Linked DNA regions of Homo sapiens: region 2 is linked to region 1. The links come from fine-mapping of genetic effects on gene expression. Tissue or cell type: thyroid. Region 1 holds a variant in brackets; the other region holds the start of a gene. All regions are shown on one strand. Distances are from middle to middle.

The links. PIP is the estimated chance that this variant, and not a neighbour inherited with it, causes the effect.
Region 2: it holds the start of USF2, and the variant in region 1 is fine-mapped to the expression of USF2 in thyroid (GTEx, PIP 0.91).

The regions. Positions count from the first base shown.
Region 1 is chr19:35,352,049-35,357,191 of GRCh38, forward strand. FFAR1 (free fatty acid receptor 1) reads left to right here. Exons shown (of 2, transcript NM_005303.3): 2 at 1-1,816. The coding sequence ends at 406. Among named protein-coding and RNA genes, the nearest start is that of FFAR3, 3.8 kb to the right of the region's middle. RefSeq lists an enhancer at 138-1,004 and a silencer at 2,981-3,080. The variant A/G (reference allele first, on the strand shown) is at 2,700.
Region 2 is chr19:35,266,485-35,271,627 of GRCh38, forward strand. USF2 (upstream transcription factor 2, c-fos interacting) reads left to right here and starts at 2,478. Exons shown (of 10, transcript NM_003367.4): 1 at 2,478-2,679; 2 at 2,962-3,008; 3 at 3,097-3,215; 4 at 3,319-3,519; 5 at 3,963-4,113; 6 at 4,234-4,321; 7 at 4,599-4,657. The coding sequence starts at 2,618. LSR (lipolysis stimulated lipoprotein receptor) reads left to right here. Exons shown (of 10, transcript NM_205834.4): 6 at 1-48; 7 at 195-254; 8 at 352-483; 9 at 625-1,250; 10 at 1,340-1,480. The coding sequence ends at 1,375. RefSeq lists silencers at 1,259-1,338, 1,419-1,488, 1,589-1,738, 2,897-3,086, 3,227-3,546 and an enhancer at 3,834-4,573.

The sequences.
Region 1 (5,143 bases):
CTCTCCGGTCTGCCTGGAGGCCTGGGACCCGGCCTCTGCCGGCCCGGCCCGCTTCAGCCTCTCTCTCCTGCTCTTTTTTCTGCCCTTGGCCATCACAGCCTTCTGCTACGTGGGCTGCCTCCGGGCACTGGCCCGCTCCGGCCTGACGCACAGGCGGAAGCTGCGGGCCGCCTGGGTGGCCGGCGGGGCCCTCCTCACGCTGCTGCTCTGCGTAGGACCCTACAACGCCTCCAACGTGGCCAGCTTCCTGTACCCCAATCTAGGAGGCTCCTGGCGGAAGCTGGGGCTCATCACGGGTGCCTGGAGTGTGGTGCTTAATCCGCTGGTGACCGGTTACTTGGGAAGGGGTCCTGGCCTGAAGACAGTGTGTGCGGCAAGAACGCAAGGGGGCAAGTCCCAGAAGTAACGCCACTGCTCGGGGGAAGGAGCATGGGGCAGGAGGGCCCGGCTGCTTCTCCAGGCCCCTGCGGGGGGCTGCTTCGGAGGAACTGCAGGGCAGCCTGGCCCGGAGGCCTCCCTGGAGCCACTCAAGCAGAGAGCGGCGCCTGCTGAGGGCAGCACCCCAGTCAAGAGAGGAGCACCGAGCCAGAGCACGGTGGCAGGGGGAGGTAAGTTTGCCCCTGCACGTGTCGAGGAAGTTTGTCCCTTCCTCGCCTATCTTTCTCTCCCCTCTGCACGTCCTCACCTGCCTGTCTTCCGTGGGCCGCGAGCAGAGGCCTTGTACTTACGGGAAGGAGGAGGCAGTCTGTTTCTGACCCACAGGAACTGCCACTCCGGTGATGCACTTGAGGACAGCTACTCTGAAATCAGTTCCCAGGAGAGAACATTTGATTTCCGAGTAGGAGAGGAGGCAGGAGGCAGGATAATGACGCTGTTATACCATGTGAAACTCGCAAGGGGGCAGCCTTGGAGCTTGGAACGGAGGCTGGCAGGAAAAGATGCTTCAGCCGGGGAGGGAAAATGCAAGGTCCCGCAGTGATGGGCAAAGGCTACGGAGTTGACTCTTGAACAACGTGGGGATGGGGTGCCGAACCCCACGCAGTGGAAAATCTGTGCATGACTTTGACTCCCCCAAAGTTCAACTACTAATAGCCTACTGTTGACCAAAAGCTTTACCCAGTATATAAACAATTGAGTAAGACATATTTGAAGCCAGGCACAGTGGCTTATGCCTGTAATCCCAGCACTTTAGGAGGCCGAGGCGGGAAGACTGCTCGAAGCCAGGAGTTCAAGAGCAGCCTGGGCAAGATAGTGAGACCCCCACCTCTACAAATAATAAAAATAAAAATAATTAGCTGGGCGTGGTGGTGCGTGCCTGTAGTCCCAGCTACTCAGGGGTCTGAGGTGGGAGGATCCCTTGAGCCCAGGATTGAGGCTGCAATGCCATGATCGCACCACTGCACTCCAGCCTGGGTGACAGAGCAAGATCCTGTCTCTGGAAAAAAAAGAAAAAAGACATATTTTGTATGTTATATATATTATGTGCTGTATTCTTACAATAAAGTAAGCTAGAGAAAAGTACATGTTACTGAAAACATTATTAGAAAGAGAAAATACCTTCACAGCACTGTGCTGTATTTATCAATACTGTAAGTTTTGTTGTCTGTTTATAAGAGAAGTTGTCTGTCTCAAGCGGCAGTAACCGCGGCTGCAGATCTCAATCTGTGGTAGATATCAAGCAGTTCAACCCTTTTTTATAATGTCATGACTTTTCTTTGCTTCTTGGAAGCAGCTCTGGCATCACTAGTGGCCCCGCATTTGGGGCCAAGGGGGTTATTCAAAGTTTACGGTATTGCATTAAACATGGTGAAACATATGCAATGACTATGAAAGATCACTTTTTACTTCTGTACACAGTGTACTGGCGAGAACTGCTCACCAGGAGGTGATTAGCTTCACGTGGTGTTGGAAGCAGATACTCAACAGTTGAGCTCACGGAGAAAGCACAGGAGGTGGCTACGAAATTATTATAGGAGTACAGTATGTCTACAGTAAATATGCACTTATGACTTTAATACTGCACATCTTTATGTTTGCTTGCATTTCTCTTGACTTCAAATGGCATCAAATAGAGTTTGTGTTTGCGTGCATATATTTTTGATAAATTTTAACTTTTTTGTTTTGTTTTGTTTTTAGACAGAGTCTTGCTCTGTCTCCCAGGCTGGAGTGCAATGGTGTGATCTTGGCTCACTGCAACCTCCGCCTCCCAGGTTCAAGCAATTCTCCTGCCTCAGCCTCCCAAGTGGCTGGGATTACAGGCACCTACCACCACACCTGGCTAATTTTTTGTATTGTAAGTAGAGATGGGGTTTCACCATGTTGGCCAGGCCTGTCTCGAACCCCTGACCTCAGTTGACCCACCCGCTTCGGCCTCCCAAAGTGCTGGGATTACAGGCGTGAACCACGGTACCCTGCCAATTTTAACTTTCTATAAGAGATTTGCCCAGCCTGGGCAACATGGAGAAACCCTGTCTTTACCAAAAATACAAAAAATTTAGCTGGGCATGGTGGCGTGTGCCTGTAGTCCCAGGTACTTGGGAGGCTGAGGTGGAAGGATGGTTTCAGCCTGGGACGCAGAGGTTGCAGTGAGCCGAGATCATGTCATTGCACTCCAGCCTGGGTAATAGAGCCAGATCCTGTCTCAAAAAAAAAAAAAAAAAAAGCTTTGTATCCATTTTGGCATACATAGACTAGTATGT[A/G]TGGCAGTAAATAGACTAGTGGCAGTAAATAGACTAGTACCTACATATATTTTTTGTATTCGTGGCATACTTAACTTTTGCTTAATTTTAAAAATATATTTCTAGGCTTGTAGTTCCTCTGTAAGTTTTTTCAAATTGTTGCAAATCTCTGAAAATGTTTCCAATGTATTTATTGAAAAAAATCCACAAGTAAGTGGACCTGCACAGTTCAAACCTGTGCTATTCAAAGGTCAACTATATAGTCTGTAATACGTGATGGGTGTCACGCTGAGTGTCTACAGTGAGTGTTGTCTCACTTCAGCTTCACACAACGCTGTGGTTTAGCCTTGCCACTGCCGTACGGATGAGCGGGTGTTCACTACACGAAGGTACTGGGCAGAGGAGCAAACACTGACTAAATTCTAGCCTGTGCTTTGCTCAACAAGCCACATGCCTGCCTTGCTTGCATCAAGGGAAGGAGTATTGTGTTCTAATTTGAAGAAATACACCAGCCACTCCTTAGGCAGCACTTGGTGCGGGATGGGCTCCTCTGGAAAGGGAGCACCTAATTTGCACAAAGGTGCTGCACCAGGTAGCTACGATCCTGGAATGGGATGAAGAAACTTGCCTAAGGCCCTACAGCAAGGAAGGGGTAAAAGCAGGATGTGATCCTTCCAAGCAGAACCCCCAAGAGCCAGGGGACATTTGGGAAACCTGGGGGTGTGGGGGTTAACCCTGTATTTGTGGTCCATTTCGCAAAGGATAGCATCCCACATCCATGAGAGGGAGGTCAGAAGGGAGTGGCTGTGGCTGTGAAGGAGACAGACACCTGGGCACCTGCTCTAAATTACAGCAATGCCATGCACATGATGATGTATTGGAGCACAACAAATGGCAGCCACCAGCTGGGGTGCACGCACCAATTTCTACAAATGAGCTCTGTTCAGGCTGAAATGTCTACGCATGCAAGGATTTTTCTTGTAATTGATGATATATCCCCAGCGCCCAGAAGACAGAGTGGCACGCAGTAGGTGCTCAGTAAATGTTCGCTCAATGAATGAATGAATGCCTCTACTAGCCTTCCAAAGAAAGTTCTATGTCTGTTTTATCAATATGGAAACAGGCCAGAGAAATTAAGTAACTTCTTTTGGAAGCCAGAAACAAGCCCGGCACTTGTGCAGTGACAACACCAGGGAATTTCAGTAAAAACCCAAACTCCACCCCAGGGAGCCCCAGTGCCTCCTCCCGCATCACAGGGTGCCAGGGCCCACTCTCTTTGACTCCTGCTCCATAGCCCCTGCTGGGTACTGGGCTGCTTCTCCCAGTTCCTCCTGCCTCCCCCCACTTAGGGCAAATCCAGTGCCTCCCTGGGGCCCAGGAGACTCAGTGTGATCCACCCCAGGCGCCTCTCACTCCTGTGAGACCCAAACCTCCTATCAGCTCCCCCAGCAGGCCAAGTCTGTGCACCCGTGACTCCCCTGCCCCAATGTTCCCTCCAGTGGCTCTTTGCCTCTTCAGTATCCACGTCTTCATGATCCTTCCCCTACTCCATCCCCCAAGCCCTCACCACCAAATGTAATGTAAACAGCATGACAGCAAAAACTTTTTGTTCACAACTGCGTGTTGTTTTTTTTTTTTTTTTTTTTTTTTAGACACAGTCTCACTCTGTTGCTCAGGATGGAGTGCAGTGACACAGTCATGGCTCACTGCAGCCTTGAATTCCTGGGCTCAAGCGATTCTTCCATTTCAGCTTCCCAAGTAGCTGGGACCAGAGGCACATGCCACTAAACCCAGCTAATTTCTTTTTTCTTTCTCTCTTTTTTTTTTTTTTTTCCCCTGTGGACATAGGGTCTCCTCATGTTGCCCAGGCTAGTCTCAAACAACCTGTGCTCAAGCAATCCTCCCACCTCAGCCTGCCAAAGTGCTAAAATTACGGACCTGAGCCACCGTACCCAGCCTACTGCTGCACTTTTAACAGCTTAATTGAGATATTATGTACATATCATCAAATTCACCAATGTTAAGTGTACAATTCAATGATTTTTAGTAAATTTACTGAGGTGTGAGTCCATTACCATCAGCTAGTTTTAGAACATTTTCATGACCCTAGTAAAGGATTTTACTTCATGTTCATTTAAACTTAATCTTGGGCCAGGCGGGGTGGCTCACGCCTATAATCTCAGCATTTTGGGAGGCTGGGGTGGACGGATCACCTGAGGTCAGTAGTTCGAGACCAGCCTGGCCAACATGGCGAAACCTCATCTCTACTAAACATACAAAAATTAGCCAGGCGTGGTGGCGGGCACCTGTAATCCTAGCTACTTAGGAAGCTGAGGCATGAGAATTTCTTGAACCCGGGAGGCAGAGTTTGCAGTGAGCCAAGATTGCACCATTGCACTCCAGCCTGGGCGACAACAAGACCCTGTCTCAAAAAAAAAAAAAAAAAAAAAAAAACAACTTAATCT
Region 2 (5,143 bases), 86 kb before region 1:
ACGGGTACCCTGGAGGATACCCTGGAGACGTTGACAGGAGTAGCTCAGGTGAGGCCGGGGGAAGCAGGAACAGCTGGTGGGAGTGTGCTGGGCATCTGGACACTGAGGGGCAGGGGCTGGAAGGAAGAGTGTCTTGGGAGCCGAGGAGGGGCTCTGCTCCTGGTGCGCGGCCACTGACAGCCACTCTCCCCCAGCTGGTGGCCAAGGCTCCTATGTACCCCTGCTTCGGGACACGGACAGCAGTGTGGCCTCTGGTGAGAATCCATCGTCCCGAAGTTGGATGTGCCTGTAAGGGAGAGGGGTGGGCCAGGATCCATCCTCCCAAACCGACCACCACCCCCCTGTCCCTAGAAGTCCGCAGTGGCTACAGGATTCAGGCCAGCCAGCAGGACGACTCCATGCGGGTCCTGTACTACATGGAGAAGGAGCTGGCCAACTTCGACCCTTCTCGACCTGGCCCCCCCAGTGGCCGTGTGGAGCGGGGTAAGCAGGAGCCTTGGGGTCTGAGGGCTTTTAAGGTGGGGGGGTGAAACATGTCTCCCTGATACCTGCCGCAGGGACTCTTGGTGCAAACCCTGGACCCCGGGCTCCTCCAGCAGTCAGTGACACCCCCCTTCCCTGCAGCCATGAGTGAAGTCACCTCCCTCCACGAGGACGACTGGCGATCTCGGCCTTCCCGGGGCCCTGCCCTCACCCCGATCCGGGATGAGGAGTGGGGTGGCCACTCCCCCCGGAGTCCCAGGGGATGGGACCAGGAGCCCGCCAGGGAGCAGGCAGGCGGGGGCTGGCGGGCCAGGCGGCCCCGGGCCCGCTCCGTGGACGCCCTGGACGACCTCACCCCGCCGAGCACCGCCGAGTCAGGGAGCAGGTCTCCCACGAGTAATGGTGGGAGAAGCCGGGCCTACATGCCCCCGCGGAGCCGCAGCCGGGACGACCTCTATGACCAAGACGACTCGAGGGACTTCCCACGCTCCCGGGACCCCCACTACGACGACTTCAGGTCTCGGGAGCGCCCTCCTGCCGACCCCAGGTCCCACCACCACCGTACCCGGGACCCTCGGGACAACGGCTCCAGGTCCGGGGACCTCCCCTATGATGGGCGGCTACTGGAGGAGGCTGTGAGGAAGAAGGGGTCGGAGGAGAGGAGGAGACCCCACAAGGAGGAGGAGGAAGAGGCCTACTACCCGCCCGCGCCGCCCCCGTACTCGGAGACCGACTCGCAGGCGTCCCGAGAGCGCAGGCTCAAGAAGGTGAGGGCCGCCCTCCCTGGCGTCCAGACCGTCCCTGGGCCCCCAGCCGGTCCCCGCGGCTCATACCCTTCTTTCTTTCTCCCTTGCAGAACTTGGCCCTGAGTCGGGAAAGTTTAGTCGTCTGATCTGACGTTTTCTACGTAGCTTTTGTATTTTTTTTTTTAATTTGAAGGAACACTGATGAAGCCCTGCCATACCCCTCCCGAGTCTAATAAAACGTATAATCACAAGCTCTGGAGAGAACCATTTGTTCGGCCGCGCGGGGCGGGGGACCGGGGCTGCTCCCGTATGCGTCTGTAAAGCGCCGCGTCCCGGGGGCACCGGAGTCCGGGGCCGGGAGGAAGAGACCCAGCCTGGCCCGGCCCGCGCCCGCGCCGCCGGCCGGAGAACGTGCCCCGCGCAGCCGCCGCCCGCCTGCGTGCGCGCCCCGGCCCCGCCCAGGCGTGCGCATGCGCCCCGGCCCTCCGCCTTCGCGCACCGCAGGCTGGCCGTCCGGGACGCGCGCGCGCTCCTCTCCCCTTCCAGCCCATCCCCCCCAGCCCCCCACCGACCTACTTTACTGTCTCCAAACTCGGGCAGCCCACCTGGCCCCCGACGACCCCAGCCCCTGCACCGGGTACCCCGACGTTCCATCCAGACCCGCGTTTCACCAGGGCGGCGCGCGGCGACCTCGCGCCCCGCGGAGCCCCGGGCTCGCGCGCGCCCGCCCGCCCCCGGAGACAGACCAGCGCGCGCGCCCCGGGCCGCCTCCCCCCAGCGCGCGTCCGCCCCGGGGCTCGCGCCGCCGCCGCCGCCGCCGCCGCGCGCGCGCAGCTCAAGTAAAGGAGGAAAAAAAAAAGGGGGAAAAATAGAAAGCGGCGGCGGCTGCAGCAGCGATCCGCCGCCGGACTGGGCCAAGCCGGGCGGCGGCCGCGCGAGCCGGCGATCCAGGGCACTGGCGGCGGCCAGCCAGGGCGGGCCGTGTTCAAAAAAAAAAGTCGCGGCGGCGGCGGCTGCTCAGGGAAGGAGGCCTGAGGGCCGCGTGCAGCGGGCGGGCAGCTGGGTGGGCTGGGGGCGGCCGCGCGGCGTCCCGGAGCCTCGGGCCGCCCGGAGCCGGCGGGCGGGCGGAGGCGGAGGCGGCGGCGGCTGCAGCGGCTGCAGGAGCGGCGGCGGCTGCGGCGGCGGCGGCGGCATCTCCTCCTCACATGACCCCACTGTTTGTCCCCGTGATCAGCGCGAGCGGCTCCCGTATCTCCTCCGTCCCCTCCTGCCGCGCGGCGTGAGCGCCGGGCTCGGGGCCCCCCCGGCCGCCCGCCCCCTCCCCTCCCTCCCTCCCCTCCCCTCCCCTCCCCCCCGGGCCCCGCGCCCCCCCCGCCCCCGCCCCCCCCATGGACATGCTGGACCCGGGTCTGGATCCCGCTGCCTCGGCCACCGCTGCTGCCGCCGCCAGGTAAGATCCCCGGCCCGGCCGTGCCCCCGCGCCCCGGCCCCGGCCCCGGCCCCGCGGCCTGCAGGCCGGGGCCGCCATGATCCCGAGCGGCCGCGGGCCCGGCTCAAAATGGAGGCCGCCGGCGCGGGGGGGACCTGGCGCCTCCCGCCCCCGGCCCCCGGCCTCGGCGGCGCCCCCGGCCTCAGGCGCGGCCGGGTGGGACTGGGGCCCTGCAGCTGGGCGCGGGGGCGGGGGCGCGGGCGCGGGCCGCGCTGACCCTGCTCCCTCCTGTGCCCCTGGCAGCCACGACAAGGGACCCGAGGCGGAGGAGGGCGTCGAGCTGCAGGAAGGTGAGTGCTTGCCGGGCCGGCCGCGCCCGGGGAGGGCTGGGGGCGCTCGGCGCGGCCCTGACCGTGCCCCGACCCTCCTCGGCCCCAGGCGGGGACGGCCCAGGAGCGGAGGAGCAGACAGCGGTGGCCATCACCAGCGTCCAGCAGGCGGCGTTCGGCGACCACAACATCCAGTACCAGTTCCGCACAGAGACAAATGGAGGACAGGTGAGCGGCGGGCCGCGAGGGCGAACGGGCGGGCGGGCGGGCGCGCCGGGAAGGCTCGGACCTGGCCCCAGCGCCGGCCTCGCCGCTCTGCCGCCCCCTGCAGGTGACATACCGCGTAGTCCAGGTGACTGATGGTCAGCTGGACGGCCAGGGCGACACAGCTGGCGCCGTCAGCGTCGTGTCCACCGCTGCCTTCGCGGGGGGGCAGCAGGCTGTGACCCAGGTGGGTGTGGACGGGGCAGCCCAGCGCCCGGGCCCCGCCGCTGCCTCTGTGCCCCCAGGTCCTGCAGCGCCCTTCCCGCTGGTAGGTGCCCTGCCACCCCTGGGTGGGGGGGGGAGGGAGTGGAGAGGGGACACTGGCTCTGCTCTTGGGGAGCCCCGGGGGTGGGGCAGGTGTCGCCCAGCGGATGCTGCCTTCAGGCCTCAGGCTGCATGGGGCCAGATCCCTGTTGTGCACCGTGAAACCTGGGGACAGTGCTCTTGGAATTTTTTTTTCCCGCAAAATGGGAATGATGTGTCTTAAGAGGAAAGTTTCTTAGAGTGCGAAACGGATTTGCTCAGCAAGTGATCGCTGACCTCCCGCCATGTTCCAGGGCTGTTTGAAACACAGGACAGAATGCTACACGCAGAAGGAGTCCCCACTCCTGTTAATTGCAGAGAATGCAGTAAACCCCAAGCACAGCAATGAGGGGACGGGATGGAGGAACAGAGAAAGCTAAGGGTAGCCTCTGCCCTCCTACTCCCCAGGCTGTGATCCAAAATCCCTTCAGCAATGGTGGCAGTCCGGCGGCCGAGGCTGTCAGCGGGGAGGCACGATTTGCCTATTTCCCAGCGTCCAGTGTGGGAGATACTACGGCTGTGTCCGTACAGACCACAGACCAGAGCTTGCAGGCTGGAGGTGAGGAGTAGAAGTCAGATTGGCAGGTGGGGGAGGCAACGGGCCCAGCAGGGAGGGAAGCCCCCCCAGCCAGTTCTGACTTCACCCTGCCTTGCCACTAACCCCCCACTCTCCCTGCAGGCCAGTTCTACGTCATGATGACGCCCCAGGATGTGCTTCAGACAGGAACACAGAGGACGATCGCCCCCCGGACACACCCTTACTCTCCGTATGTGCAGGGGACACCTGGAGGGCCTGGTGTTGAAATGGAAGGAAGAGGGGTTTCTGGAGTAGAAGCTGGGCAGTTAGCATGAAGTGGGCACATGGTGTAATGTTTTTTTTCTTTGCCTGTTTCTGCTGCTCTAGTGCACATAAAGTATCATGTCTTTTGTTTTTGCAGATGGATTTACCTTGCAAAGATAATTTTCAAATCTAATACTTAGCAGATGCTTGGGCAAACAGCTCTGCGATAATACATGCCCCCTTTTTTTTTCCTCCTCTTGTAGAAAAATTGATGGAACCAGAACACCCCGAGATGAGAGGAGAAGAGCCCAGCACAACGAAGGTGAGGACAAGGTGTGGCTCCGGGTCCCCCTGACCACCACCCTCACAGGCTCAGCCAGCCCTGGAGTGTGGAGTGACAGAGAGAGAAGCCACTCCTGGGCAGGCCACAAGTGCTCCAGAGGGCTTTGCTGGACGCTGTAAAGGTAGAAAGTGAGCAACGAGGGGAGAGTACAGTGTCAGAAGTAGAGGGACAGGGAGTGTGAATTGGAACTGGCCATTTGTTGACCCGGCTGGTGATCTTGAATTCATGGCCCACATCTAAGATGGTGGACTTCACACTCCCATACGGATTGCCTGCCCCACTTGAAAAATGGGGCTGACCGGGCTCACGTGGGCTGACCTTTCCACGTGGCAGCTGTCATGCTCACATCCCGCACTCCCATGCCTGCCTGGCCTCCAGAAGTAGGTCTGTTCCCCCAGGGAGCACATCTGAGGGAGAAACTGCATGAAGTTCTGCCTCTGGCTACCTAAGGCCGGAGCATCCTGC